Linked DNA regions of Homo sapiens: regions 2, 3 and 4 are each linked to region 1. Evidence: fine-mapped expression QTL. A gene starts in region 1. Each other region holds a variant in brackets. All regions are shown on one strand. Distances are between the middles of the regions.

The links. PIP is the estimated chance that this variant, and not a neighbour inherited with it, causes the effect.
Region 2: its variant is fine-mapped to the expression of GCLC in whole blood (TOPMed, PIP above 0.99). The same link has a PIP of 0.9 or more in blood mononuclear cells.
Region 3: its variant is fine-mapped to the expression of GCLC in whole blood (INTERVAL, PIP 0.97).
Region 4: its variant is fine-mapped to the expression of GCLC in whole blood (TOPMed, PIP above 0.99).

The regions. Positions count from the first base shown.
Region 1 is chr6:53,541,007-53,549,127 of GRCh38, forward strand. It overlaps GCLC (glutamate-cysteine ligase catalytic subunit), which reads right to left and starts at 4,095. Exons shown (of 16, transcript NM_001498.4): 1 at 3,490-4,095. The coding sequence starts at 3,639. RefSeq lists enhancers at 1,203-1,840, 2,779-3,520, 3,359-3,418 and silencers at 3,639-4,068, 7,136-7,365.
Region 2 is chr6:53,581,202-53,589,345 of GRCh38, forward strand. No RefSeq gene overlaps it. Among named protein-coding and RNA genes, the nearest start is that of KILH, 12 kb to the left of the region's middle. The variant C/T (reference allele first, on the strand shown) is at 3,265.
Region 3 is chr6:53,501,313-53,509,312 of GRCh38, forward strand. It overlaps GCLC (glutamate-cysteine ligase catalytic subunit), which reads right to left. Exons shown (of 16, transcript NM_001498.4): 7 at 7,864-7,938; 8 at 7,283-7,399; 9 at 6,168-6,306; 10 at 5,601-5,713; 11 at 4,491-4,583; 12 at 4,080-4,184. It overlaps GCLC-AS1 (GCLC antisense RNA 1), which reads left to right. Exons shown (of 5, transcript NR_183318.1): 4 at 4,842-5,122; 5 at 5,486-5,599. Among named protein-coding and RNA genes, the nearest start is that of GCLC, 40 kb to the right of the region's middle. The variant T/C (reference allele first, on the strand shown) is at 3,997.
Region 4 is chr6:53,642,958-53,651,101 of GRCh38, forward strand. It overlaps KLHL31 (kelch like family member 31), which reads right to left. Exons shown (of 3, transcript NM_001003760.5): 3 at 4,959-8,144. Among named protein-coding and RNA genes, the nearest start is that of LINC01564, 19 kb to the left of the region's middle. RefSeq lists an enhancer at 514-808. The variant G/A (reference allele first, on the strand shown) is at 4,687.

The DNA of each region.
Region 1 (8,121 bases):
GAGTTCGAGACCAGCCTGGCCAACATGGTGAAACCCCGATTCTACTAAAAATACAAAAATTAGCCGGGCATGGTGTTGGGTGCCTTATAATCCTAGCTACTCAGGAGGCTGAGGCAGGAGAATCACTTGAACTCTGGGAGGCGGAGGTTGCGGTGAGCCGAGATCACGTCATGCACTCCAGCCTGGGTGACAAGAGCGAGACTCCGTCTCAAAAAAAAGAAAAAAAGAAATGTAGAGAGGTACCACAATGGAGAATTAGTATCTGCATCCCAGATCAAGGGCGGGAGGTAGAACAAGCGCGGGGGAGACCAAGGTTTCACTGAAGTGCCATGGCAGGAGGAAAAAGTAGAGTGGGGCTTCTTTTTCTTTAATCACCTAGGCAGTCTTCACAATCTTAATTCTTTCCTTTGTGTCGGGCAACTGTCAACACTTCAGGGCAGGAATGTTATTCTTCTCAAAAATTCTATACTCCACCCAGAGACATAACTGAAGCAAATTTAAAATAATAAAAAATGAGCAGCGGGTTATGCTTTTCTTCTAAGATGAGTTTTCCACCTCAGTTTGTTTACTCCCCACTCCAAAAGACATTAATATGTTAGTAGGGTGGGGGGGCGGTGGGGGAACAAAGGAACTTGTGGAAAACAAAATAGTCTAGGGAAACAGAAAGGATAGATCATAAAACAGTAAAATGCTGGTAAAAGCAGCATTTCAAATGAGGTTTAAAAAATCAATTTATAGCTTTGTATTTAATTTATGACAGAGTATTTGGAACAAGAAATGTGAAGGTATAGTCTTAACAGTCACTAAAGAAAGTTTTCAGTGAACATCATTTACACATTTTAAGGTAAGAGCAGTGTTATCAAATCTTTTTTTGGGGTAGGGGGCTAGGGTCTCACTGTCACCCAGACTAGAGTGCAGTTGAACAATCACGGCTCACTGCAGCCTCAAACTCCCAGGCTTAAGCGATCCTTCTATCTCAGCCTCCCGAGTAGTTGGGGCCACAGGCACATGCCACTAATTTTTTATTTTTGGTAGAGATGGGGTCTCGCTATATTGCCCAGGCTGGCCTTCAACTCCTGGGCTCAAGCAATCCTCCTGCCTGGGCCTTCCAAAGTGTTGGGATTACGGGCCACCACGCCCAGCCATTATTAGAGTCTTAATACAATACCAAAGTCTAATTCTCCACAGATCTGCTCAGCGTAATTTTTTCAAGAAGTGTTATGACCTGGCTGAAATGCTGGGTCCAATTTTCTCTCCTTTATAGATGCATAATACAAGTTTGCATTATGGCCACTCTTTTCCAAGCCCCTTGATCTTTTGGAGTGGGAAGGAGGTAAACCTATTGCAAATCTCTCCATGAAAGCCTGTTAAAGCAGAGACACGTACTTCAAGGCTCTACTCTTCAGCTCTTCCCACTTCAATTTACCCAACAACTACAAAAGTTACTTAAAATAGGTAGTTCTAAATGCTCTTCCTGCCAACAGGAGAGGCCTTTTTTAAAAGGGTAAGATTAAGGATTCCTGGAGTGTCTTGCAGGAATACACCAAATGGGACAAAGATGGATAAGGGGTGGTGGGGGGTGGGGTGTTGTCTCCAGAAGGAGTTGCTGAGCTCCAACTGTGCTGCAAATTTCCTGTTGATGTAGTTCTACCTGGGACAATGACTACCAAAGACTTGAACTGCCTGTCTTTGTAGAGAGACCTAGTTAAATGTCAAAAGCAGCACAGGGCCCGGCACATTGGCTCATGCCTGTAATCCCAGCACTTTGGGAAGCCGAGGCGGGTGAAAAGTCAGGAGTTTGAGATCACCCTGACCAACATGGTGAAACCCTATCTCTACTAAAAATACAAAAATTAGCTGGGCGTGGTGGCAGGCACCTGTAATCCCAGCTACTCAGGAGGCTGAGGCAGGAGAATTGCTTGAACCCGGGAGGCTGAGGTTGCAGTGAGCCGAGATCACACCATTGCACTCCAGCCTGGGCGACAGAGCAAGATTCTGTCTCAAAAAAAAAGAGCAGCACAAAAAAATGTCAAACTTTGAACTGCTCTACAATGACTAGTTACCATACAGTGGGAACTTGAAATAGTAGTTCATTCACTCATTCATGCCACAAGGACCTGATGCCAACTACACCAGGCACAAGGCTGGGCTCTAGGAAAACAGAGGTGAACAAGCATAATGTCCCTGCCCAATTTCGTCTTACATTTTCCTGTGACACACAATACAAAAATGAATATACAAAATGGCAGATGCTGTAAAGAAACTATGAACTTTACAGTAAAACTGAAGAATCATCACCAAAACACATGCTGTGCTTTTTCTGTTCAAAGAAGTGTGACAAACCACTTTTTGTAGAAATGTGAATTACTAGTCATCATACTTTCCTAATTTAAAACAGCACAATTTCTTCAGCTGTAGGAGGTAGAATCCCAATCTTAGAAAAAAAAAAAAAACTAACTTTTTGAAAGGAGATATTCTGCACTGGTGTAACAGCACGTCAGCACTTAGGCCAAGATTGATAACAACACTGGCCAAAAGATAAACAATTTACACAGGTGGCAAGCCATCTAAGGCAAAAGCTAAAAACAAAAACAGAGATGGACTTCTCAAGAAGTCATTTAATGTGTACTGCATACACACGTAATTTTCAAAAACAGAAAGGGAAGGCACAAAAAGTTTTGGCAGATGACACTAAATCAACAGTTTTAACATTGCTGCATTCCAGATCATTCCAATAAACAATGGTTCAACCTACTGAGAATCTAGAGACATTTCATCTCTAGGCAGAACACTGGTTTGTAAAGTTTAGTTGCTGGACCTAGGCCATGGAAAGACACAAGCAAATCCTAATGTTGAAACTCTAAATGCATTCCCACTTAGAATTAAACAGGAAAGGGAAGGTTCCTCCCCCATGTAGGAAACTGAGCCGTAATTTACTGGTTTCAATTTATAGCTATGAAGTGTGTGTGTTTTGGAGGGGAGGGAAGATGAGAAGTTGGAGAGGTTTAAGGAAAAGACACCTGCATGAGGTAGGGCAGAAGTGGACATCCTGAAGACCTGATTTCTAAAAGCAGCAGGCCTACTAGGAAAACTTAAATCTCTTTCATATTGACCGCAAAAGCGAATTTTGAGCCTGTAAGGTGGATCATGGTAGTTGCCGGTCTGCAGATACACTAGGTTGAAGACTCGCAGCACCTAATGTCACTTTTTCATGCTCACGCCCTCCCAGCGCCCAATCCGTGTTTATGGAATGAAGGGGAAAACCCAAAAGAATGAATGAACAAGAAAGGAGTCTAGTCAGGAGGATGGCCCTGGACGCGGACTAGGCGAAAGCAGGGACGATGCTCCCGGGGCCGGGAGGCGCTCGAGGACCCCCGGGCGCAGTGGAGAACGCGGACCGCGATAGGGCCGGGGGCGTAGGGCAAGACAAAGGCAGCGCGGGCGGCCAGACACGGGTGCCCGGCGGGGACGGGGACCGCGGGCGCTCACCTCATCGCCCCACTTGAGAACGTCCTTGTGCCGGTCCTTGACGGCGTGGTAGATGTGCAGGAACTGGAGGATCCCGTGCCGCCGCACGTGGTCGGCATGGCGCTTGGTTTCCTCCCAGCTCAGCGGCGAGCCCTGGGACAGCAGCCCCATGGCCGCCCCCTCCTCCTCCTCCTCCTCCTCCGGGCTGACGGCGGTCGCCCGCTCCGGGCGCGAGACGGACACTCAGCCGCCCGCAGAAGGCGGCTGCCGCTCCACCCCGCGGGGGCGCTCTCGGGCCGCAGTCGGCGGAGGGAGGGTCCTGCCCGCTCCGGCTCCCCGGCGGCGGCCCCTGGCGCCCAGGTGACAGACCCTGGGTCCGACGCACCGCGCGGAGGCGAAGGCAGAAGACCGAGAGCAGGCGGGACGGCTCTCGGCCCGGCGGCCTCGCCCTCCCCGCTGCTCCTCCTCCCGCTCCGATGCGGCGGCGGCGGACCCCACGGCCGCGCTGCCGCGGCGGCTCCCGCTTCTCTTTGCCGGTCTGGTGCACTGGCTTCTTCCTACTTGTGACCAAAACCTGCGCCGCCGCGGAGCATGCCCAGTCTTTGCGTCCGCTAGCTCGCCGCTCCTGGGCGCGATCCTGCGCTCCAGGTTTTATAGACTACGGGCGAAGGCGGGGAGAGGAGGCGGTGCAGCGGCGGAGGCGTGGCCTGAAGCCCGGTGGGAACCGCGGGGGCTCAGGAGGCGTGTGCAAGGGTGATTGGGTCGCAGTTGAGGGGAGCAGCTCGCGAGAAGGGGGCGTGCGGTCGGCCTCGCTTTACGCAAACGCGACATATCAAAATGCATTTTTTTTCCTAATCAGAAGAGATAAACTTGGGATTCGGGAAGAAAGTTGATTATTTGAATCAATGACGAACTCACCATATTATGTTTTAGTTGGACAGGGCCTCACACTTAGAGTGAGAGCGGCAGAATGTGTTGAGAAAAGTATTAACATGGTAGTGAAGTGAAACAGTTCAACTCTAGGCTCCATCACTTACTGACTGTGAGACTTGGGACGAGTTCTTCCCATATCTGCATAAAATTAGATTAATTCTATCTTTTATAGATGTCGTAATTATGTGCATAGTGTACATGTGTATAGTGTTGGCCAAAAAATTGACCTGGTTATTAAGAGGAATCAATTTGTCAACATGTGTAAATCATTATTCCCTACTGTCTTGATTAACTGGTGACCTATGTTCTCTGGATGGCACGGACACCATTTATTGCAAAAAGTCTCCAGACAGACCATATGAGGAACCATCTCCAAAAGTTTATCCTCCATCTAAACCTAAAATTCATCCCTTAAGTGATCAAAATGACGTTCTTGTGAGCCTACCGTGGGGTGGGGTTGAAGATAGTGGGAACACCTAGAGTTGGCCTTATCTCGGAGGGAAAGGAGAGGAAGGAGGTACCGTGCCCCCAAGTGATTGTTTAATAAATATGTGTTGACAGAGCAATGACCTGTCAGGGGAAAAGTGAAGGCAACTAGATCATACATGTACCTACCCAGAAAGTGTGTATTTATCATACCCTCTTCCCTCGCACTACAGAGTTAACATTTAGTAAGCACTTATTAATTGCTAAATGAGTGAGTACATGATAGCAGGATTCTCTTCTCCCACAGCCTTCATATTGGATGTGCCCCTCACAGGGCTTGGGGGCATGAATACCCAAGGTCTGGCTGGGATTTCCACAATGGTGTGTGTGTGTGTCTGTGTGTCTGTGTGTGTGTGTCTGTGTGTGGTAGGGATGTTTGAAGCTCAGGAGAAGATGTTTCCATCCTCATCACACAGGTGGGATAGAAATCAAACCACATTCTAATTTTTCCACAGCCTTTTCAACAACCTCCTTTGCCCTCCCACCAACCTCACCAGATCTGTATATGGTTCTGGCACTCTGTTGTTTTTCCTGCTTGAAATTCTCCATCTGACACACTCATGTTCATCTCTTGAGTCACAGTTATTCCTCTCTGTGTTTTGGTTGCATTCGTACATTAATGATAGAGTCATTTTAAAGATAGCTCCACACTAAATAGTGAATTCCTCTGGGGCACAGATGACTTATGCCTTTTGTACCTTTAATTCTAGAAAAGTGCTTGGTATAGAGTGTGTGCTTAATAAATGTTAGCTTCTCCGTGAAAAGCAGGTAGTGGGAGAGGGGGAGAAACAGTGTTTCCCATGTAGGTAAGACATCCAAGGATCATTGGGTTATTCTCATAATGTCATCTGACATTCTCATAGACCTGCATTGTTCAACACGACAGCCATCAGCCACATTGGCCAATGTACATTTGAAATGTGGCTAACATGACCGAGAAACCAAATTTTCATTTTAATTTAATCAATTTAAATGTAAATTTAAAAACTGATATTCCATTCAGTTACTGGAAAACTTTTAAGTAAATTTGAAACAAGTTGGAAATGTGAATCCATTTTTGACTGTAAATTTTATGAAATGTAATTACAGATCAAGTATTTCCAATGAAAACTTAGTGGCCCAGATGTGTTGTGAGTGTAAGTCACACACCAGATTCTAAGACAGTAGAATAAAAAGATGTAAATATCTCATTAAAAGTTTTATATTGATTACATAGCGATATAGCATTTTGGAAATTTTGAGTTAAATATGATGTGGTATGTTATTTAATTTACCACCACCCCCACCCACTTTTATTTTTAATTTTAAAGGAGGCTACTGAAAAATTTAAGATTACATATGTGGCTCTCATTCCACTTTATTGAAACAGTACTGATGTAGACCTTGATTTACACTTTGCAAAGCAGTTTTCCCATACACCTGCTGCACACCATACACTTTTCCCATGCACCTGTTAGGAATCATGGACCTGGGCGGTTCAATAATAGACTAAATTCTAGTCTAGCCAAAGCCCTACGCGACACTGAACCTAGTAAGAGTTTAACACTGTAATTGGAGTTACTCTGTCCTAGATCCCGGCTCACACTCACATAAGGGACCTCCCTCACCCTATCCTACCCCCCCGAATTCTGAACCAGCTCCCCCAGCGGGGGTCCCAGAGCTTTGGACAATCCCAAAAAGGGCGCCGGCGCTGCTGCACCACAGGGCAGTTATGCCCAATTTAAACCTTGATCTCTCAGTGTCTTTAGCCTTTTCTGTTACAAAGAAAAAACAAAAATCCCATCACGGATCAACTGAAGTCATATTTAACAAGAGTTACTCCCCTCTGACAATGCTTTGCCTGCATAGGTCCACTACTGCTCGATTTCATTCTGTAGACTGCACCCAGGGCCAGGTTTCGACATCTGGAAGTGAGTTTTCAGCAGACAGCTCCATCAGGGCTGTAACGATAGCTGAAGGGGAAAGAAGGAGCTCATATCTTGCAGAATCAGCTCTTCCCTAGACCATGACCAAAGGCCGATTCCCAGTAGTGTCTTCCGCGGAAAAACGCGAGACCCGCTCTCCAGGAACCCATCTCTGCCCAGCGGCGCCCTGGCACCGCAACCTCGCCTCGCAGCCCCGCGGACCAACACAGGCCCCGCCCCCAGAGCCGTCCGGAAAACCTGGACCGTGGAGATCCGCATGGGGGGACGCCGTGCAGTCGTGAGGCCAAGCTGAGCATGCTCGGAGAGCCGGCCTGTCGCGGGAGGAAGCGGTGTGGGCCGCGGGCGGCGCACGCCGCGCAGTTGTTGTGATACAGCCCCCGCCACGTGACTGCGCGGGCCCGCCTCCCCCGCGCGCGGCACCGCCTCCCCGTGACTCAGCGCTTTGTGCGGGCTCCGAGCCGGAGGTCAATCTGGGGGAGGCTTCTTAGGGCAAAGTCTCAGTCCATCACTCCTGACCTCTGGGCTGCTGCTGCTGCTAGGATTGCCGCAGTCGTTTCAGACACGATGGGTTTCGGGCCTCCAAGGACCAAAAAATACATCATTTTCTCTGTGGTCACGCCATTCCCAGTTTCCCTTGAGTCAGCGGCTTCGCGAGATCAAATAAGGAAAACAGAGAGAGTGCCCAGGGGACTCTGAGGAAGGCACTTCTAGGTTATCTGCCCCTGCCTTTACCGCTCTCTTTGGCTTGAGTATCCCTTGACCTTGGTGGTCTGTCGCTTGGGTCCCAGTATATCACATTCTATGCCAGGCACTTTGAGCTGGTATCCGTAAAACAGTACTAATCTTTGCCACATTTTATAAGTGAGGCAACTGAGATCCAGTAATACTAAGTAACAGGTAGTGGCTAAGCTGGGGTTTGAACTCCAGTGATATTTCAAAGCTGTCTACTACACCACTTAGCCTGGGTGAAGCTGGTGGCTGCCTTCAGTGTGATTCTTCCTGGGACTTGATGCCAACCTTCATTACATCCTTTCTTCTCCCTTGACACACCCTTTCCCCAAAACCCGCGGATCTGCCTGTGAAGTCCTTAAGCTTTTTGTCTGTTAAATTTCTTTCTTTTTTTTTTTTTTTTGAGATGGAGTCTCGCTCTGTCGCCCAGGCTGGAGTGCAGTGGCGGGATCTCGGCTCACTGCAAGCTCCGCCTCCCGGGTTCACGCCATTCTCCTGCCTCAGCCTCCCAAGTAGCTGGGACTACAGGCGCCCGCCACTATGCCCGGCTAATTTTTTGTATTTTTAGTAGAGACGGGGT
Region 2 (8,144 bases), 40 kb after region 1:
TCCTCTAAAGCCTTTGAAAGGGAGCCGGTAGTCATCTCATAAGTGATGCACCATTTACCACACATGAGGAGGACTGGAGGAGTGAGTGCTCAGGGAAGCTGGTCAGCCTCCCCTTTTTAGCGTGGGTGATTGCTGCTGCCTCCTGACTCACAGTGGTTATGGGACAGGCAATGGTCCAAAGGAAAGAGGAGAGAAAAGGAGAGCAGAACCTAGCAGCACTCTACCTATTATTCTAACTCTGCATTCCTCCCCACCCAAAGTTTATGATGGCCTTTAGTGTCTCCAGGAGTTTCTCACAGTTTTTTTCTAGGGCTGATTCCCCAGGGCATCTGTGGCCTGTGCCTGATCTTGTCTGTACTTCAGGGGCCAGCAGTGGGGGATAGGTTACTGAAAGTTTTTGAGTTTTGCTGTGAGAAGATTAATCTTTCAGCAGAGTGCAATAAAAGGAGGAAGGAAACCCTGTTACTAGTTTAAGTAAGCAATAATGGAGATCTGGATTAATAGTTTGTATGTTGAAGTGAGAAGATTTTTTTTTTAAGTATAAATGATTTATTTGTTAGTTGAGCCCAAGCTTGAAGAAGCTGCTCTTTTATTTTGCCTCTTTTTTTTCTTACATATGTTTATTCTTAGCCTTTTCTTTTCTTTTCTTTCTTTTTTTTTTTTTTTGCAGTGAATTCTACAAACTAAGCACTGGAAGAATGTCGAGATGTTACAGTGAAAAAGGAAGCTAAATGAGGCCAGATTGGAGAGCAAATTGTTATTATTTAAAACTTATGGACCACCTCGAATATGCCAAGTTCTATTTAAGAAAATACAGAAACATGATTCCTTTCATTTAACAGCTGACATTTTCAGGAAGTATACACCACATTTTTGTGTGTGTTTTACTCCACATACTGCCAATATTTAAACTTGCTTAGTTTGAGGAATTTCCTCTTATTAGTTTTCTTTTTCTCAACTTTTTTTTTAGAGTGGTTCTCTTTCTTTTTTAAATTTTGTTTCTGTTTTCTTTCCTGTTTTTAAAAATAAAAATAGAGACTATGATCAAATATCATTGCATATGTTCCTATTACTGGGTTGAAAGTTGGTAACTGAAACACTACCTTTATTCTGTGATTTTTCTAAAAGCAGGCTGGATGAACTATTTGTTATCCTTTTTGCAATTGTTCAGTGTGTTTGTCTCTCCACAGAATGGTAACTGGCTGATCTCCATTTTCATTTCAGGTTAAAATCAAGGAAATCAATTTGAACTGTAGCACGCAAGTTTTATGTTAATTACAAACATATGAAAAATGTTCAGTTTTAAGTAAGATAATGTTGTTTATTTTTCCCCCTGTCTTTTATGCCTCTAATTCTGCTATAAATCATATGTAAAAAGAATTTGGTGAGACGCAGTAAGAATTCTCATAAAATGCTGATGGGAAGGAAACTTCTGCTGACCATGAAGGATACTTATAGATACAGTGTAGCTACTCCCCCTGTGCTCCCACCCCCACCATATACCAGTGGTTCTTAAACTTTAACATGCATCATAATCACCCAGAGAGTTTGTTAAAACAGGGATTGCTGGGCTCCACCTCCAGAGTTTCTGATTCAGTAAATCTGGGGCAAGCCTTGATAATGTGTTTCCTAACAAGTCCCCAACTCATAGTGACACTACTAGTCCAGGGATCAACTCTGAGAATCACTGCCATATACCAATATTTCTCAGTACTGACTGCACCTGGGGATTTTAAAGAGAATACAACTGCCAAAAATTACCAGTGCTCAGGTCTGTTCCCACTGATTCTGATTTAATTGGTTGGGAATGAGGCCAGGATACCTGTATTTTATAAAAGTTCTTCAGGAGATTCTAAGGTATACTTAGGTTCAAGAAGCACTTCCTTACACTCAATCTCCACCCGTCATTCAGAGAAACTCATGTAGTTTCTGTTTCACCTTCCATTAAAGCCTTCAATGTTAAGCTATTATCAAGATATTTTTATATAGACTGGGATGCCTATTAGTCTTAGTCACCACCAAAATGTAAGTCACTAAGTATTTATCCTCTCCCTTACTCTTACTATTTCTCCATGATTTCTCTCCACTAATCCATACCTGCTCCTACTTTGCCTTCCACCATGAGTAAAAGTTCCTTGAGGCCTCCCCAGAAGCAGACGCCGCCATGCTTCCTGTACAGCCTGCAGAGCCATGAGCCAATTAAACCACTTTTCTTATAAATTACCCAGTCTCAGGTATTTCTTTATGGCAATGCAAGAAAGGACTGATACAGGTAATAAATCATTCATTCATTCAAATAAAGTTACCATAGTGTTGGGGATACAGAAAAGAGACAGCCCCTTAAGGAGCTCAAAGTCCTCAGAATACCCTTCCTTTATTGTGATTTAGTGCCACTTTTGAAGACAAAAAAGAAGTAAGAGTCTTATTTCGTGAACATGTGGCAAATGTATGACTCATTACGTTTATGGTTCCACTAAGTTTAAATTAGGAGGAAGTTCCTAATAAGTATTTTTAAGCAAAAAATAGTTGTGATCGATTGTAAAATTAGACACAAATTATCTCATCTCTTTATGGATACCCTATGCAATGTGAATTTGTGGTCTTCCCATCATGAGGTGAATTCTATTTCTCCACCTGGTGAATTTGGGCTTGGTCATGTGACTTGATTGGCCAATGGGACATTATTAACAAATAAATGCACTGCAAGTAGAGGCTTGAAAGGTGCTTGTGCATTGTTGGGGCTTGCTGTCTTGCTGCTCTTCGAGCCTTGAGATAACCATGTGAATGAGCCTCTGGATGAAGAGAGACACAGGGTCATGCCATCCCTGTTACTCCAACTAACAAACACCAGCCACCAAACCTAAGTCGGAGGCTCTCTTAGCCCATCCAACTCCAGCTGAACCACCAGCTACCATACAGATGTGTGAGTGAGCCAGCAGCCAGCAGCTGTGCAGGCCCAGACCGAAAGAACTACCCATTGGAAAGTAGGTGTTGGATTCTTTCCAATCCACAGAACCAAGGACAATAATACATGCTTTAAGTCACTACATTTTGGGGTGCATTGTTATACAGAATATATATATTCTATTGTTATATAGAATTTTTAGTTATCTTAAAATTTTTTAAAACTTAATTTAACCTGCTGTGACTACTGGATTAGGATGATTTCAGAAAGTAAAAATAGAGTCTTAAAATGTAACATTTCTTGCAGCTGGCTGTCGGTTCTATTGAATTTTTACCTAAGGATTTAAATGAATTAGTTGA[C/T]AGAGATCTTTATTTTTTATTATCTCTGGTGCACAGCGTGAAGTTGAAGTTGGGCGAGGGGTAAAATTTTCGGTTAGTAGCTGGATGAAAGATCAGCCGATTCTCCCAGCTTTTAGTCTTGCTCTGCCTAGTACACTATCAGTCAGCATTTGCTTAAGGAGTGGTTGGTATTTACTGCTTTTCAGTTCAACAACAGGCTACTTTTTAAATATAAAAATTACCACTCTGAGTTCTATCCACCATCCACTCATCTCTCAGTCACTCATTCCTGCTATGCAACGGCTCCAAGGGATATATTCTAGGAAGCCATAATTATAGTCCTTGGCTGTAAATCCATTGGATGCAGCAGTTGTCTCTGTGCTGTCTCTCTCTCACTTGCCACTCCTCAACCCATTGTAATCTGGTTTCTGCTCTCCCATGCTAATGAAACCTTCTCACCAAGGCCACAAAGAACCTGGTATTGCTAAATCCAATGGATACTTCTCAATTTCTATTTTAACCTCTTAGCAGCATGTGACATTGTTGATCACTCCCTTCTTGAAGAACGTTACTCCCTTTGCTTCTGCTATACCACTATCTTCTGCTCTTTTTCCTGTTACTCTGACCATTCTACAGTGTCTGTTGAGGGCTCTTTTGTATCTCCCCATCTTTAAATATTGATGTTCCTTCAGCTTAGGTCCTGGGCCTTTTCCTCTTCTTCCTCTACACACTCTTCCTGTGCAATCTCCTCCCTTGCATAGCTTTGATTATCTTGTATGTATTCATCTCTTCCAAAGCAATGTCTCCAATTGAAGTCACTCTCCTGACCATCAGAAATCCAGCCATCTACTGAAAAACATCTCTTGGATATCTCTCAGGCACCTACCTCAATCTCAGTATGTCCAAAACTGAAGATTGAAACCTCCGCTTCCCCCACCCGCACACTGCTTTTTGCTCCCTCAGCTCTTTTTGTATCCCATCTGCAGTGTCTGACATGGCTGTTTACCTAGTTACCCAAGAGAGAAACCCAGGCATCATCCTTGAGTTCTTCCATCTCCAGTTCATTCATATGTCCCACCAGTTCTATCCCCATGAATAGTTCTTGTTTAAATCCAGTTCTCCTCATCCGCACAGCCACATTACCATGTTACCCAGCCCCGAGCCATCCTCTTCTCTTGCCTAGATTATGAAGCAGCTTTGTAACTGGAGCACTTGCCCCGGCCTTGCCACTTCCCCTCCATTTTCCACACAGCTGTCAGAAAGACCTTAGAATGCAAATCTGGTTATGAACGTCCCTTCTGTTAAAACTCTTTAATTTCTTTCCACTTCCCTTTGTATAAACACCCATACAGTTCACGATTTAAATTAGGGGAATGATTCATAATGTGCCTAACTCTCCAATCTAATTTCTTCCAAACTTTGTCATCTAGCCAACCTAATTTCTTTTGGTTCATCAGTGTTCTCTTCACCTCTCAGCATTTGAATATGTAGTTCCTTTTGTCTGGAATACTCTTCTCCCCTCCCTCCCCTATTTGGCTTGACTAACTCTAATTATTCTTTCAGGGTCCAGGTTACATGATCCATTTTCTGAGAAGCTTTCTCTGATGTCTCAGGTCTGGAAACCCACCCCCTCCAGCACCTCCAGGGATTTCCTCCATCACTGTTTTCTGAAATGTGTGCTTTTCTCCGGGAGGCAGACCACATGGGATTTTCTCAACTTTAAAGCTCCAGCAACTACCACTGGCCCCGGCACACATCACCCTCATAGTTGTGCTGAATTTAATTAAATGTTAGGGTTGTTTTTCCTTTCTCTCTCTTTATTTATTTATTTATTTATTTATTTATTTATTTCTCTTTCTTTGTCTTTTCTTTTTTTTTTTTAGACAGGGATCTCATTCTGTTGCCCAGGCTGGAATGCAATGGTGTGATCCTGGCTTATTGCAATCTCCTCCAAAGACCAAATCTCCCAGGCTCAAATGATCCTCCCACCTCAGTCTCCCAAGTAGCTGGGACTACAGGTATGTGCCACCACCCCTGGCTAATTTTTGTATGTTTTGTGGAGATGCAGTTTCACCATGTTGCACAGGTTGGTCTTGAACTCCTGAGCTCAAGTGATCCTCCCACCTCGGCCTCCCAAAATGCTGGGATTACAGGCATAAGCCACCGTGCCCAGCCAGAGTTGTTTTCAAGTTATCTATTTCTTGTAGCAAATTAATCTGAACATTTCACTAATGAAATTATTGTATGTGTTCTTCACTCTAATTATATATTTAGACTGTAACAATATTTTAGATAATAATGTTATTTTTCTTTATTGTGGTAATTGTAATTGGCTTTTATTCTTCCAAAGTAATTACTTTTTGTTTTAAAATATTTTCTCTCTTTGATGTATCTAGATTATGTCAATATGGCTGTCTTAAATGACCACATTAGAAAAAAATTAAAAAGGAGCCAGGGCAGTGGCACACACTTGGAGTCCCAGCTACTTGGGAGGCTGAGAGGGGAGGATCACTTAAGCCCAGGAATTCAAGTCCCAGCCTGGGCAACACAGCAAGACCTCATCTTGAAAAAAGAAAAGAAGAGAAAAAAAAGAAACAGGCCAGGTGAAATTAGTTTTAACAGTATATTTTATTTAACCCAATATATCCAAATTATTATGATTTCTTTATATAATTATGTAAAAATTAATGAGAGATTTTACTTTTTTTTCTTACTAAGTCTTTGAAATCTGATGTGTAATTTACACTTTCAGTCCACCTCATCTTGGACTAATCATTTTCAAGTGCTTAGCCACACATGGCTAGTGGCTGACATATCGGACAGGGCAGCACTATACTCTTCTCAATTCTCAAGTATTCTAATCACACAGTTTTCTTCTCCATCTTTCTCCTTCTCCATCTTTCTCCTTCTCCATTTCAGAAAATGCACGCTCCCAAATCATGTGTCTCTAAGCTAAGGCCCAGCCTTTCAAAACTGAAATGCCAAACATTTGATTCCATTGTTATTTTCACTTTGCCAGGTGTTACCTGCCCTGAAGCTTTAAAGAACAATGCCCTGGATGACTTAATCTGAAAGGGCAAGGAGAGCATGGAAATGTGAGTGGGTGCATGTGAAACTGTGTTTAAAAATATTATCCAGCCACACCTATAGTAATTTCTAGAGCTTAATTTCTCCATTTACTTTCAAGAGCCCAATTTCTCCATTTACTTTATAGAGCTTAATATCTACCTTATAGCATGTAGCAATCATGTAAATAGCAAAAAATGATTTGTTTTCTTTATAGTTTTAGTTTTGAATTGTCTATGTTGAAAATCAAATGTTTGTTTTCTAAATTTTTGTATAGTCTTGAAAATATTTTTCCAGTCTGCCAGAGTTTTTAACCTCCAAATTTGCTTGGCATGTTTCACCCCAAACTGTCTAGCATGCACTGAAAAATTATAATTTTGTAAAATAAAAGATCACAGTCGCAACTGTTTGGTGACTCCTCATGGTTTGCAGTTTTATTTTTTTTTTACTCTGAAAAGCACATGTTTATTTTTAGCATTTTTCCTTTTTTAATCTCAAAAAGATAATTAAAATCAGGAGGACCACTTGTGAAAATCTCTATGTGTAGATATTGCTAATATTCTGGACCCAGGAAAAAGATGGGTTGAGGGCATTTCTCTATAGTCAATTTTTTTTTTTTTTTTTTTGAGACAGAGTCTCACTCTGTCACCCAGGCTGGATTGCAGTGGTGCCATCTCGGCTCACTGCTACCTTCACCTCCCGGGTTCAAACAATTCTCCTGCCTCAGCCTCCCAAGTAGCTGGGACTACAGGCATGCACCACCATGCCTGGCTAATTTTTTTGTATTTTTAGTAGAGATGTGGTTTCACCATGTTGGTCAGGTGGGTCTCCAACTCCTGACCTCAGGTGATCCTCCCACCTCGGCTTCCAAAGTGCTCGGATTACAGGTGTGAGCCACCGTGCCCGGCCGAGAGTCAAATGTTTTTTAATGTTTACTAGGTACTGCGTGGCAGTCAGGCCCACAGAAGATGAGGGTACAATTTGAGAGGCACATGAGGGCTACAAACGAGAGCATGTGTGAACTGTATGAATAAGTGTTTGTGATTGGTGGGTATATGGGGCACCTTTTACATTTCACTTGGCATCAACAGGTGCAGATACGTCCTGGTAATGCCTCAGATGCACCGCATATCTCACGCTGTTCTGTTACTTCTCTGTTCTTGCTGTGTGGGTGTCCTCAGAAACCCACTGAGACATTGTGACAGATGCACACACTTGAAGTGCAAAAGAATAACACTCCAGGGGGCAATCTGACCTGGGGGATGGGAGCCAGGGTATAATATGAATGTGTATTATGCATATCTCCTTCCTCTATGCTTCAGAAGGATAATTCTCAGTGGCATTTTACACAGCTCCTCAGAGCTCCTGGTTGCCTGCAGCAGTGACTATCTTGATTATGTATCCGGGGATTGGCTCTTTCCCCAAGTTCCCTCATCTGTTCCTTGGGATCCCTTCCCCAAATAAACTGAGTACAAGCAAACCTTTGTGTCAGGCTCTGCCTTTGGAGGGATCCTGTGCTCATATAATGGCACAGAGCAATGAGTGAAAGGAAAGAACCTGGTGTGTCTCCAAGATTTGGTTTAAACAGCTTGGTAGTCAGTGGACTTAGAGATGAGACATCGAGAAATAAGAGTCGCAGCAGAATATGAGAGTGGGGAGATGATGAGTTTGATTTTATGCCTGTTAAGTTGGAGAGGCCTGTGGGACAAATAGATGGATATTTAATAGGCAGTTAAAATTATGACCCTGTAACTCAAGAGAGAGGTCAAGCTCAGGGAAGATTACAAGTTATTTGCATATGGGTGGCAGATAAAGTCTTGCTTACAGGGAAGTTC
Region 3 (8,000 bases), 40 kb before region 1:
TCATAGGTTGTCATATCTGGAATAAGGTTACAGCCCTCCCAAGGGCAGAAGATCACTGCTGTTTTACCCATCTGGTGCCTCCGGACATGTAGACTCACTCATGAAACCGAAAACTGTTTTATTTGTGAATTCTCTGTATCTCCAATGACTTTTTAAGACTCTCAAAGCAGAATTTAAAAAACGTTTTAGTAGTAATCCCTTATTTTCTATAATGAAATCTTATGTGGGACCTCAATATATACAACAGTGACCAGTTAGAGGGCCAGGCTGACATGGGACAGATGGTACATAAGCTCTCTTGATTACCAAGTCTCCTCCCATATTCATTATGCAGGGAGTGCGATTGTTATGGTTTCATTTTTTAAGAGACACACAGGACCTTCTGAAGAATCTAGATACTCTAGGAGCATACTCAAATAAATAGTATACATTCCACCATGGCTGTGAACATCTGCTTTCATTATTAATATTTGTTTCTTTTTTCCTTAGTCTTGAAAAAAGTTCATAACGACCACTTATAATTTGTGCTTTGATGACTTCCTTTCAAAGTATATTTTACTTTGCTCTTTAGATACTCAATGACTTAGATTTAAAATCTTTTTGTTAAGACATTTAAAGCTATAATTTTTCCTTAGACATCAGCTCTGCCAGCATGTCTTTCACTTTCCTACACAATCTGTAATTCTAGTTTTGGTTAATCTAAAATCTACTTGGAAAGACATTTTTAATTTCCAATGTTAAATTTCTCCAGAGTATCTCTTTCGTTGAATTTTAGCGGGAACGCATGCTGTATTATGTCTACTTTTGAGAAGTGAAGATTTTCTTTAATTTTTGTAAATCTTACTCATGGCATTTGAAAAAAGATGTGGTATGAGATACGTAATATACGCATACAACCAAGCTTATTAACCATGCCTTTAATTCCCCCATGGCCTTTCCCATCCTTTGATTATATGGCCTGTCAGTTACTGAGTAACATGCAAGGTACTCTGTTAAGTGGTTTACCTCCATTAATCCCCACACGGGCTTACAACAGCCTACTTATTCCCCTCTGGGATACATGTGGGAAACTGAGGCACTGAGAATAAGTCACTTGTCCAGGTTAAAAGCCTAGTAAATAGTACCAGGGATTTATGCATTTAGTTCTCACATCAAAGCCATGTATTACCCATCACACTAAACTCTTTTCATGTTACATTTCATGGTACAAAAAGGACCACAGCTTTCACATCATCTTGGAAGAATATATAAAACTGCTTTCTCTATCCCATTTAATAATTTCTACCTCACATTTTGCCTGATATTGCTTTGCCATTCCTGCTATCATTCCAAAAGGTCACTATGCAGCTCTTGTCGGCATCTGTCCTTGTTCTACGTACATCTTATGCAAACTGTGTTGCTATTTTATATTATCTGTTTCAGCTGTTTAATAGGATAGAGTTTAGTCTATTCAAATTTGTTTTCATTTTATTTTCACCACTTTATGTTCTATGGGCTATTGTTTCATCACTCCCCTGGCCCCACACCCAATTTTGTGGCACTGAAATGTATTTGTGGTTCATTTTGCCACCCTTTCGCCAGCAAGTTTAAAAGTAATAAATCCTGTTTCTATACTATTAATAGTTTTCCTTAAAGAGGTAGTTTTGAAATTATAACTCTCTAAGTGTCAAGCACTAATGAGTATCTACCATTCATCTCCTTCCATATCCCCTTACAAGGTGCTATGGTCTGAATGTCTGTGTTCCCTTAAATTCATACACTGACGCCTAATGCCCATTGTGACAGTATTAGAAAGTAGGGCCTTTGGGAGGCAATTGGGAGGACCTCCTTTGGGAGGTCATGAAGGCCCTACCCTCATAACTGGTATTACGAAGAGACATCTGAAGAGCTAGTTAGCTCCTTCCACCATGTAAGAACACAGCAAGAAGGCACCATGTATGAACCAGAGAGCAAAAGCTCTCACCACACACCGAAACTGCCGGTGACTTGATCGTGAACTTCCCAGCCTCCAGAACTGTGAGCAATACATTCCTGTTGTTTATAAGCCACCCACTGTAAGGTATTTTTGTTACAGCAGCCCAAACAAACCAAGACACTAGATAAGACTTCTGGCATACTTTTAGCCCTAACTTGATCCATTCAGTTTTGTTAGAATCACCTGAAATTTAAAGAATAATTTGGCTGAGAAGATAATTCTGTGGTTGTTAATTCTTTACCTCTCGAGATTCTGAAAACTTCTTTCCATCTAGCATTTAATGTTGCAAATGAAAAGTAATATCAGTTGATTTTCCCCCCTTTTCATGTCTCCTAATTTTTTCTCCTGTCCGGACAGTTAATTTTCTCTTTGAGATTAATAAATGCCTACATTTGAGTTAAATATTTGTCTCATCCTTAAGGAAGACTTATTAAGGAAAAATTCTATTATTTCTTTGATTATTGTATATCTTTCCTATATAAACTATTCTCCTCTTCTAAATTATTACACAAACATTGAATTTTCCAGAGCTTTCCATGCTTCAGGATTTCCATAATTTCCATTTCTTCACCATCCTGCTGGGATTAATCTTCATTTGGTCTTTTAAATCACTACCTTGGATATTCAACATCTGCTCTACTGGTGAGAATACTCACCATTAAATAAGCACAATCTATAATACTTGTTTTATGGATGTGACTGAACCTCTCTAGAATTTGTCTGAGGCCACTAATTAGAATTCCTTTAAGAACTCTTTCCAAAGCTGAGCATGGTGGTTTGTGTCTGTAATTCCAGCTACCTGGAAGGCTGAGGCAGCAGGAGGACGATCATTTCAGCCCAGGAGTTCGAGACCAGCCTGAGCAACATAGTGAGACCCTGTCTCTAAAAAAGGTTTAAAAGTATTTTTTAAAAAATAGTAATTCTTTCCAGTTGCTTTTTTTTTTCAAGAGATGGGATCTGGCAATGTTGTCGGGGCTGCACTAGAATTCCTGGATTCAAGCAATCCTCCTGCCTCAGCCTCCTGAGGAGCAGAGATTATAGATTTGCGCTGGGCCCAGCTTACTTCCTTGAAGTAACTAAGTTTGACTTTACAGAGTATGCCCTTGCAAGACCAGTAGGCCCTTCTCTTTAAGGCTGTTAATTGTTCTCAATTTTCTGTTGCCTTCCAAGCATCTATTCTTATTTATAAGCAAAGGCTTAGACTGGTAGCTTACATGGAATCTCTCTTAGATGGATTTGGTCTCCCCAGTAGGTAGGCATGAGGGCAATGTGGGCCCACAGAGTTCTGTGGGTGACCTTTGGTCTGGGTGTGAGGAGCAGGCAGGGATGGGCTGACAGCCAGATTTCCTTCAGGGGGTGTGGGGATGAGCACAGTCTGGCAAACCCCTCATGGAGGAAGGAGATGCCCCAGGGGCAGATGCTGGAGCTAAGCAGTTTCATTCTTGCTTCCATGTTTGCTGTGACAGGGCTACCCTACTTCTCCATTCTCTGGCCCCGAAACCCTCAACCAGGAACCCCTGCGGCAGGGCCCTCTCTATTTAGCAGTTTTTCCCAGCCACTCTCTGCCAAGAGGAACCCTGGCCCAGAAACCAAAGGCGTTCACCTCCTCAGCTACTGCTCCACAACCCACAGCTCTGCTCCCTCATCACCTGGAGTTGTTTTGCTGGCAAACTCCTCCCAGAAAGCTTGTTTTTTGGTCTTTTGGGGGGCAGATTAACTCCAATTTGTTTTTCTGAGAGTTCAATCCCATCCGAATTCTTCAGAAATATCTCAAGTTCAGTTCTACTGAGGAGACTTTTACCGGCATTCCAGCAGTTACACTTTCCCTCCCCATCCTAATTTAACATTGTAATCAACCTGGGATTTTGTGGTGGATGAAATCAATGTGTAGGACTACTTCTAGCCATCAATCATCTTGAATGGAAAGCGTCTAGAAATTAAGCTTAGGTTTAAAAGAAAATAAAGAATAGGGCTGATGGAGAAACATTTTATTGCAAAGGGTAAACAATTTCAAATGAAAT[T/C]AGGTGGGAAATAAATAGCATATATAAATAAATATATCTACAGATAGATCTATACCCATCACCATAAAGAAACATATCCTTACCTTTGACAGTGGAATGAGAAAATCCAATTTGTAGGAAAGGATCACTCTGGTGAGCAGTACCACAAACACCACATAGGCAGAGTTCTCAAAGTCTGTTAATTGCACCTAGACAAGCAGAAGCCCAGAGAAGTTATGAACCAACTACACAAACATGCTCTTCCCTGACCCAGGCCCTTCCTCAGATCATGTCATTCCCAAGCCATCTCCTAATTCCCCATCTGGGTCTGGAAGCCCTTTGCCCACATCTATTCTCAGAAATCAACCCTCCTTAACTTGGACTGACTTGCTACCATGCACATACTTAATTTTTATTTTATATATAAGAGCCTTCTCATAGCAGCATCAGAAGGGTGATGAACAGCTGGCGAAAGAGTACTTTTGAGTCAGTTCTTGCTGATGCATGTGTCTTACCTCCATGGGTCGAAATTCTACTCTCCATCCAATGTCTGAGTTTGGAGGAGGGGGCTTAAATCTCATTGTCTGCCAATTTGTGGACTGAATATTCTGTGATACAAAAGCAGAGAAGAAAACCAACTTTTCACACATCCAGGAAAATATTAAGATGATCTGGTATTTAATTAAGGAAGAAGACTGCTCACTGTCCATACCAAATTTCAATTGACAAAGACAAAAAGGTACAATTGAAGATTTTCTTCGAGTGTGCTCTTTTAGGAAAACAAAACAGCCAAGTGTTTAACAAAAGCTATGAGGCCCTATCACTGCAAGCTTAATCTCACCCAGCTCCTACTCCCTATCTCCCAGCTACAGAGCAGCATCTGAAGAGCCACGGGGCCCCCACCTTCATCCCTGAGAATTTTAGGAGCCAGCCTGCCTTTCCAGGTGACACTGGACACTTTCATCTGAGAACCCTGTCACATGACAGTTGTTTCCTTTCTTCCTCCTCTCCTGGGAATGCTGCTGCTTCGATGACCCAAGAGCCTAAGAAGGGTAGCTGTTTCTCAATACACTGAGAGAGAGTTCTTTCTCCGTCCTGACCATCTTGGGACCCGATGGCAAGACTGGAAGGATTTATATCTCCTTTTGTGAGTTTGGTGGGGGAAAGAAAGGGGATATAGATGGTATTTCAAAAGGTATATATGTCAATGTCTACATATAACATGACACAGAAATAAATCTATGAGAAGTCTATCTACAAAAAAAAAAGGTGATATGTCTGAAGCACTGAAATAACTGATCAGGTTATTTTTTGTGCAGTGTATGTTTGAATTTTTCACCACTAGGCAAATAAGAAAATACTGAACAATAAAAAAAAAAATTAGAATCAGTGAGATAAACAGTAAGAATCGTAAAATAAGAGTACTTGAAACCGATTTTTTATTTGTCCAAGTTCTTTACTGCACTGGGTAAATGAAAGTCTTATGAAATTTCTTTTGTGTTCTCCACAGGTACAGAAAACTGCCTCCCCATGTTGGTTTGTGAAGTGAAATGCATATAAAACAGAGGATTCCAGACTCTCAGAAGTCAATACATAAATAAATAAAAATAAAACTGAGAAGATACCTCAAAATGGTCAGACTCATTAGCATCATCCAGGTGTATTTTCTCTTCAAACAGTGTCAGTGGGTCTCTAATAAAGAGATGAGCAACATGCTGGGCCAGGAGATGATCAATGCCTGCAAAAAGAGATCACATGGGAACTCACTGCAAAGCGAGAGATACCACTTCCTCTTAGTCCAGAAAGACGACAGGATAGCTCAGGAAGTTTGAAGAAAGGGTGTCTAGAAGCTTGAAATAGCTGGTTTGATTAGTATCCTCACCTCACCCAGTATTTTATCCTGCGGACACTGCGGGAGTGTCAGCGTTTTATTCACTACTTACACAATGCCTGCTGGGGCACTGGTGTGGACCTAGACACAGACCTCCAAAGTAAGCTCCTTTTGCTAAAAATCAAGAAAATCTCACAAGTATTTGGAACCTGAAACTTTAGGAACAAGTAGCCTCATGAGAGAAGTTAAAGACTTTGCACTAAAAATAGAAACCAGACCAGGAGTCAGCAAAAAAGTGTAAAAGAGCTTTGAAGAACTAAAGGCGTACATTCAAACCCAGAAAGATGGAGTAGAAACCCACCTTCCTGCAACAGCTGTTCGTAGATCTCTTTATCTATCGTCAAGTCGATGTCATTATATTTCTCACCACACTTAGATAAATAGCTGTCTATTGAGTCATATCGGGATTTACTGATCCTATAGTTATTGTTCTTCAATGGCTAAAGATTAAAAATATATATAAATGAATATGCTATATAAAATGAGTGGAATATATTTTTATATATGATAATTATATAAAAACCTCAACATAAGATACAGAAAAAAAGTTAGTGAGCCCTAAAAAGTATTATTAAGGAAAATTATGTTTTTTAAAATCTGAAGGCAATTTAAATACCCTTTTTTTCTGGTATGATTTAAATATACTTTTATCTTTTAAAAGCAGATCACTTTCATTCTTATTAAGCTAGGGAAAATAAATACTAAGGTTAAAAGCAAATAAATAAATAAATCTATAACGTAAGATAAACCTATCAAAATAATTATCCTTTAAAGTTTATTTCTACTTAGAAAGCATGTTCAACAATTTATGAACAATTACATGAAGACCAGAGCAGTAGTAGTATAGCCCTGGTTGAGAATATCAAAACCACTTATGAGGGCTCCTTTAAAAACACCCTTGTTCGGGTCCCATCCTAGAGATTCTTATTTAGTAGGTCTAGGATAGGGTCTGGGTGTCTATTTTCAAAGATTTCCATGGGTGGTTCTGATGCACACCCCTTGTTGGAGAGATGCAAGGGTTACTTTACAGTTCAACATGCAAACAAGAGGTGCCATCTCACCCTTATTAGTCAATGCCTAACCTTTTACATGGAAAAAGAATCTCTGACAACAAATTATACTTTCCACAGCAGAAAGCACCATATACAAAACACTCATGTGGCACCAAAAAGCCTTTTGGTAAAAACAGCCATCAGCACTTCCAAAATATAGAAAAATCGGACTACTAATTTTAAATGAAGCTAAAACAAATACAGACATCAACATACGATAAAAATTAACTCCCCACCTAGACCAAATCTTTTTCCCCATTTCAGATAAAAATTGCAGGGAGACATCCTGAAATTGCAAGTAGTTACAAAAGATCCATTTTACCTGCTTGACTTAAAAGGGCTATTAAGGAAAAACAATTCCCACCTCCAGTCCTCGCTCCTCCCGAGTTCTATCATCTACAGATGCAGAAATCACTCCCCAGCGACAATCAATGTCTGACACATAGCCTCGGTAAAAGGGAGATGCAGCACTCAAAGCCATCTAAAAACAAACAAAAGTCAGCTCCTGCAAATTCAAAGTGTCACTTACATGCTAAAAAAAGCTCCATGCAGTTATATTTCTGATCAAAAAGCATGTTTATGCAACCCATACAGAGCACATGTACCTGTGCCTATCTTACAGTGAAATATACCAGGAAGAATCCAGTTCCTTGGGTTTGATTCACTTAAATCATCCTCTCTCTAATGTGAGGACATGAAGTATGGGGGAGGGAAAATGGCCACATTCAAACTTCACATTTAACAAATCAATGTTGTACTAGCAAGAGTAAACTTCTACAGTGTAGACTCTCAGTTCATTATACCTAAACCTACATACTATTTATATTAGTCCATCTCTGACTGAGGTCTTAACTGGACTTAAATAGCACACTGTCAGTAAATTCTGCACATGCTATCTTATTTCATACGAAGTAGTATTTAAAATAAGAGGTAATTTCTACTTACAACAATTGGACAGATAGTAGCCAACTGATCATAAAGGTATCTGGCCTCAGATATACTGCAGGCTTGGAATGTCACCTGTTTAAGAATTGCAAAGTTATTAACACCAAGGAATCATTAGCATGCTCCCCAAGCAGTGA
Region 4 (8,144 bases), 100 kb after region 1:
CGGTTTTCTATGTCGTGAAGGTCTACTGTCCCCTCAAGTGAAGAGATGGACTTACTCAGATTCTCATCAAGTGCTACCCAACACAGCGCTTGTAACATCAGAGGATTGGCGTTCACTGAGAATGACTTGAAGGCTTCTTAGTCTGGTGAAATCAAGTCTATGTTCTCCCTGACTTTACCATATTCTGTGACCCAGGCAGAAAATCGTTTGGCCAGCTCTTTTCCCCTCCTTAAAGTATGTTGGGTCTTTATTATAAAAACAGTCACAGTCCAGGCATGGTGGCATGTACCTATAGTCCCAACTACTTGGGAGGTTCAGTTGAGCCTGGAGGTTGAGGACACAGTCAGCAGAGGATAGCACTACTGCACTTGAGCCTGGGTGACAGAGTGAGACCCTGTCACAAACAAACAAAACAAACAAAAAACAGTCATAGCAGCAGATACTAGAATCTCTGGGAAGTCTAAAAAGAGTAGAGTGCTCTCTCTAGCATTCAGACACTAGCAGAGCACGGCACAGATACTCAGGACTGCTGATTTTTGAGGCAGTCAGCAAGCTCTCCACGGTTTTAATGAGTACTGCAGCTCTGCCCCTGGTTGCCTGTATTCTGTGAGCCACAGCCAACCACACTGAACCTTGCTGAGTGTTCTGTCTTTGACCCAAACATGTGACTAAGCAAAAGGCATCAGTGGGGCTGGGAGAGGGGGAGGCCAGGCTTTATAAAGTAGTGCTCTGTAACTTTGCTCTACCCACTGCACAAATGGAAAGAGATAATGTTTGTACAATGCATTAGGGAAAAATGGAAAAGGCCGGCCACAGCCAGAGGAACCAGCCTGTGAGCTCTGGCCACTCTAGGCCCTATTTGGCCCTACATTAAACCTGGGAGACATCAAAGCAGTGCTGTGTAATACCTGTTCTCTGCATAGCGCATGTCAGGGAGTGACAGTGGCACATGCTGCAGCGGAGGACCCATGTGCCTAAAGCCCTGGGCAAGGTCATTCTTCCCTTGATTTAAAGTTTTCTTCTGCAGCCTGGAACCCTGATCTTCCTGCAGAGGTCACAGGGCTCTCCTTCCCCTCAAGACTCCCTCTTTCTTTTGTATTTGGTCAGTGCCGGCAGGCAGGGGCAGAGGACTGGATGGCTTCATCAAAGGCACTAATTTATCAAGTGGGATTTTAATTTAAGAATTCAGGGGGAATGATGGAAATTGGCAATGCCTTAACATTTCATGGATTTTCGGTGGAGCTAGTTTGTCCCTGTTCAAAACAAGCAGTCCCACATGGGGAGGCTCCCCTCCAATAGTAACTCTTTCCGTTTGTCCATTTGTGGCCCTGCCATCTCCAGCAGGCTCCCAAAGCTGTCCCAGGATCAGTCTCCATTACACCTCACCATCTTCAGAAATGTGGCTCTGTGGAGTGCCTCCAAAGCAGGAGCCGGTCCTTCTTTCAGCTGAATTTGCCACCCCTTATTTCTTTATGCAATATCTCACTCTCCTTGATATGGCTTGGTTATGTCCTCACCCAAATCTCATCTTGAATTGTAGTTCCCATAATCCCCGGGGGAAGGATCCGGTGGGAGGTAGTTGAATGATGGGGGCAGTTCTGGTGATAGTGAGTGAGTTCTCACGAGATCTGATGGTTTTATAAGGGGCTTTTCCCCCTTTTGCTCAGCACTTCTTGTTGCTGCCGCCATGTGAAGAAGGATGTACTTGCTTCCCCTTCAGCCATGGTTGTAAGTTTCCTGAGGCCTCCCCAGCCATGCTGAACTGTGTGAGTCAATTAAACCTCTTTCCTTTATAAACTACTCAGTCCCAGTTATGTCTTTATTAGCAGCATGAGAATGGACTACTGCGCTCCAAGTGTCTCTGGAAGACTCAGGCCCAGAGATTCACTGTCCATCTCCAAGGACTCTGCATTGAGTGACTTGTCCTCAGTATTTTTACCCATGAGGGAAATGAAACACCTTCAATGGAGACTGGTCTGGGGTTCCGAAGGGCACCAGGGATTGGGCTGCAAGGGTTCTGCTTCCAGGAGTCCCTGTTTATCTCTCATTTTTGAGTCAGAAAAAGGCCCCTGGGTATCTGTGTGTAGGCTCTACCTTCTCAGGTTTCCCCGTGTCTCTGAAAACATGGCTGCCCATGAGAAGTATTTAAAGAAATGAACTTTACCTATTAACTTATTTAGCTCTCATATGAGACAAGGTGATGTAATCATAATGGCTCTTAATTTCAGAATGCAAGCATAAGACCATATATTTTACACACACACACACACACGCAGAATATATGTATATATGCACACACTCACACTTAAATGATGTGTGTGTGTGTGTGTACTTAGTAAGCACTGAATAAATGCTTACTAGCTAAATGATGAAGCTAGTCCTAACCTGTTTTTGAAGAATTGGCAATTATAGAGAAGATGCATGCAATTTAAAAAATTTTAATGGGGACATAGCTATAGAGATATCAATCTTTTGAGTTTTTTTTTTTTGAGAAATGGAAAGTGTTGGTTGCATAACTCCTTCCACCTGTAATGTGTCTTAACAATTTAATTTTTGGCTTGCAGCAAGTTTGGAAAAGTCCTAGTTATCATGGTTGTGTACTTTAATGTGCTTCCCTCTAGTGATTACTGGGGTAAGGGAAAGTGTTTTGCATGCAGTAGATGCTTAATAAGTATTTGCTGATTAAATAAATGAGTAATATTGGAATAGAGATCAGCAAGCAGTAGGTCATGATGGTTTTATTGTTTCATTCACTCATTCACTTATTTACTTCACACACAAAAAATTGATCTCCTGCTATACACCAGGCATGACTCTAGACACCGGAGGTACATCTGTGAACGAGACAAAATTTTCACCTTTAAGGATGATATTCTAAAAGAGATGGCAGAACATAAATCAACAGGAAAATATCCAGAGATGGTAAGCTATGATGGCACGTAAGCATGGCGAGATTTGAACAAGGGAGGAAAGGCCACTGGGCTGGAGTTGTTGAAAGTTACAGCCTAGGCCAGAAGCACAGTGCTGAAGCCTGAAGAGGGCAGAAAAAAATATCCCAACCACTTGCTTCTGCCCTCTGACCTCCTTCTGATACCTCCCGTTGGATGAATAAAATGTTCAGCCAAAGAGCCTGAGTCTGGATGATGTAGTCCCTAGGGGACGGAGCACAGAGCAGGGCAGAGAAAGACAGAATATGATCAGGGGCATGAGGCTGGGAAATAATTATGTCTAATGAACATTTGTTAAACAACAAAGGATTCTTTTGGCATACAGAATTTTCTTTGCTACTTATATGCAGAATTGTAATGAAATAAAGCATTTTTCAGTTTGGAACTCTGCAAAAAATGGAAACGTTTCATTAATATTGCAGAATAAAACTTGAGAGACAGATTACCACCATTTAGCTTCCTTCCCCCTCTTCCTTTCAGGAATACTCTTCTGCTAATGGGGATTAAGAACAGATGCGTGTATGTCCTCTTTTAGACTCTACATGTGTTCTCTTCTCCCCAAATCGTCATGTATTGGGAACCTGCTAGTATGGCTAGAGTGGCAGGAATTAAGTCACAGATGTATCATTTTCACTCAACATTCTTTTAGAAGAGGTTAGATCAAGAAGAATTAAGACGATTCCAGAAAGAGAAGAACAAGGAGACCCAGGGAGGGAGGGGTGAGGAGGGCAATTCTTAACATTAAATGGGTTTATTTGATGGCTGTTGGGAACCAGATTTGTGCAAACACTCAAGGCTGGCAGAATACATTTAATACATGCTCTTGACCTGTAAGGGCACTGAATTGAGAAAAGGCTACAAGAGTTGTCTGGGCTTGTTCTTCAGAAGAAAAAAGGCAAGGTATAATAGGGGAGCTGAGTACATGTCTTGTGACCCAGGAAAGGGAGAGAAGAGCATTGTTATGGTGTGATCAGGGCCAGAGCAGTGTGGCTGAGGGGAGGCAGTTTGACTGGGAAGCTCTTTGCTCCTTTGGTAACCAGGTATGAAGATGACTAGCCATTCATTGTGCAGAGACAATGCTATATGAAAACTTTACTTTTCCTCCTGGACATGAAGACCTTTTTCTTAGCTCCCTTTCATCTAAGTAGGCCAGATGGCTGTTCTGGCCAAAGAGATGTAGACAGAATTCAGCACAGTGCTGAAGCCTGGAGAGGGCATACATCATGTCTATACCTGGCCTAGCGAAAAAAGATCCTGCCTAGTTTCCCACTGTAATTGAGAGTGGAGACATCCCCAAGATTGTTGTGGGAGGCTGTACAAATCTGTAGGGAAGCTTGGAGTAATGTGGGAGTTTAAAGAAAATGCAAAGAAACTCTGAGGCATCTGGCTGGTCTGCTCAAAATTTGGACTGTGGCACCAGTTGTTTTGTGTTTGAGGCTATCTAGTCTATTTATATGATTACAGGGCTTGGAGAAGTTTAAGAAAAGCATTGCTGCCATTTAGAATTTCCTAGATTTGATGGCCTCAACTGAATGTTATTATTTAAGTACTACATTAGATCAAAGGTTGAGCATCTTATGTTGGTTACATTTTACTTGCTCATTTGGAGGGGTAAGGTAGAAGAGAAAGGCTATAAGGGATTGTCTACACAACAATGCGATTTTATTTCCTAAAACGTTTTGTTGCAAATGATGATGAACCTGTGACAAGCTGGCTGTGGTCAGGGTGGAAACAGGAA[G/A]AGAAACCACACTTAACCTACGACTTCTAAATAGTCGGGGCTGAGCTAGACCAGAGTTGGGCTTTTCTTTGAGTTACAAAGCAAGTCTCTACTGATGTTTTATACCTTTTTCTTTCACTAGTCTTCAAGCTGTTGAAACATTTTTTCAATTACTTGTCATTTGCTGTTGTTTTGTCTAGGTGAATCATCACGAAAACTAAGTAGAGAAAAAAACAAACACCCCAATCATCAGAGAAAGGATATTTCAAAACTGTCCATATTTAGTCATTGACTAAGGTCTTATTGAATGCAGCTTTATTGATAGTGATGAGATTACAAAATAACACTACATACATTTTAGTTTGTTGTTCCTTATATAGTACCAGAATGTTTTAAGCAAAGAAAGAAATTTTTTTGCCAAAATTTGCTGAATAAATAAAAAGTTTTTAAAGAATATCCAGGACAAATAATTTATTTCAAATTCCCTGAGAGGGCAAATTAAATGGTCTTTACCCAGTGAATGTGCTGGAGGGTAAATCTTTAATATTTTAGATTGTTTAATTCTTATAATTACGAATAAAGGACTGTTTGGAAAATTATTCTGTAGGTTTTTTGGCATGAAAAGAAATACTGAAAAGTATTTCCTTTTAATGCTGCCTTGTGCTGGAGAACATATTCATCAGCGGCTGGAATAGGGATGTAGTTCATTCAGAGATTACATAAATTCATTTGGTTGTAACTAAGGGAAAAAAATTAATGAGGTGATTTTAGTTTATTTCGTCTCGTAACTTGGATGAGTTCTGAAGACACTTGGCCAGGATAACCAGCAAAAAAATAAAATTAAAAAATTGACCTTTTAGAACGTACATATTTCCAGGTAAACCTCTATTTACATGTGTATTTGTAAAATACACTTACTACAACTGCTGCTTTACCTTAAATCATAGAACCATTCAGTACTCACTTCCTCATGACATCAATTATACCTCCTCACTCATAACACTTCACTACCATCTAATCATGTTTTAAAATTATACGAATCTGTACCATCACTGACCTTCTATTCAAAACCATTCTTACAACATAGGAAGTAAAAATAAAATTCATTCAATGCACTGAAAGCAACTAATGCATCAGGGATGACAACTTGGCACCAAGAACCTAACTAAAAATGGACAAAGTATGTTAAAGTTTGGCTTCCTGGAGACTTTCTCATCAGGTCTCTGGCCCATTTAGAAAAAGAGAGCTTGAATTTTATTATTTCAGTTGCTGGGTAACATGCAATTTCCCTGATATATTGAACTGATGCTTTTATTTGATCACAGGACTCAGCCGTTACAAAAATAACAAGTCATTTTCTTTAATAAAAAATAAAAGGAAGTATATGGTTGGGTCCTAAGACTCTGGAGTAATTGAATGTAAGCTTAAAACATACTAAATATTTTCCACTTGGGAAATCTGGAGAAACTAGGTTTCTAGGAGCAACTGCTTCAATAGTTGGTGTAAAGAATATGTTTCACTTACACATGAAAGTGGACACATATTATTTTGATTCTGCATACTTTTATGTCTTTCAATTGGCAATGCAAGATGTTCCAGGATATGAAACTTTCACCGACCCTTACATTCCATACTCCTCGCCAATGTGTTATGTCAGAAATTCTGACATTCCAAATTCATATTGGTCTTTATTTTCCTAACTGTTGAAGCAGAAGATAGAACAGCAATGCACCCAAGAGTCTGGTAAGCTCAAATATGTGGATTTTCTGAGTCTTCAGATAAACAATGTAGAAAATAAATTAAATGGTAATTTTAAATGATTTATCCAGCACTAACATGTCTCCAGTTTCATCTCTAGAAAGCCACTGCCAAGTTTTTGCACAACCTAATTTATCAAGCTTTGATAGATGAAAAATCCTCTAGTTTCAGTATCTCTTCTCATTATTCCATCATGTAATGTTGCAATTGATTGATTCTCATTTCATTTCAAGCCCTAGGTCCTCCTCTTCATACAATACTTCTAAGATGTCAATGGGAACACATCTATTGGTGTGCATCAAGGAATTACATCTATTCACTCACTTATGATCTGTAACCCACAATAAAACACCCTTTTCTCCAAAAATTAACCATATACTATAGGCTTCTCAGTTGTATGAGTGTGTGCGTATACACACATATACATACACCAAGGTAATATACCATATCCACATATACCAAGGTAAAAGATTCTTTGTGTGGGATAAGGAAACAGCCCAGCGCTTTTACATTAATAATATCTTGTTCTTAATTTACAGCGTTTGTAGCCCTTACCTGAGTGTTATCATTAAATATCCAGAGATTGAACTTTTCATCGGGGTAATGATATAAAATTGTTCCACAAAGTGTACTATATGAACCACTTTTCACAGTTCAAATAACATATTTTAGAAATAAATATCATAACTAGCAATAACCTATCTACACAAGGTGGAGAGGATGAGATTAACAAAAACCAAATTATATTTCCATATATCTCATGTTCAATTCCTAAATAGCTTGTTTTATTTTTCAAAATCCAATTGCACATAACCCATAATTGATAGGCCACTTCCTCTCCAAAACAAATAAACTGTCAAAGAATAAAGTGATAAATTATAAAAAAGGAAAATATGTATCATTTACTACAGTCATTCCCTTTCCCCAAAACTTGGCAAACATATAGGAAAAGTGCTATCAAGTGGGTACACTTTGATTATAAATCCAAAGCTCATTTGGAGCAGATGAGATTAATAAAAATAGGACAGAATGAGTATATATTTTTATATACGTGAGATGAGTGCTTGATTTTTACTTAAGAAATCAGGAGGATCCATATTAAATGGGAAACAATGGCATTTATCAACAGGAGAACCCATTCATCCAGTTACTACCAAATCTACAAATTCCAAATGTTTCTATCATTCTTATCATATAAAAGATTGGGGCAAATAAAATTATTGTTATTGGTTGTGTAAACTTCAAGCTCTCTAAGCTTAAGGCTAATGGTCCTTAGGGACATAGTTTTATTTGGTGATCTTCGCGGGGTGTACATTAGGGCCAAGGTTGCCTTTAACCAGGTTGGTGTAGTTTTTAGGGTGAGGGTAAGGCTCCCAGGGTATGTGAAATTCTTCTTTAATAGAGGACAAGGGATAAAATGCAAATCCTTCTAGTTGAAACAACCAAATGACTTAAATTTATGCTATAAATTAAATGATTCATATCAATTACTTCATTGAGAGCATGATTTTATGGTAGAAAATAAACTGGGGCCTGAGGCATGGAGGAAGAGGAATGTCCGCTAACACAAAGGTTATCAAATTTAGGGTCCCTGGGTGGAATCCCTATTCCTTTTCGGTCAGATCTTGTTTTAAGCTTTATTACGTTGTCATGGGATATCTTTCAAAATCCTTTACTCAATCACATATGGGGGGAAAATTGCGTTGAAATACAGAATTAAA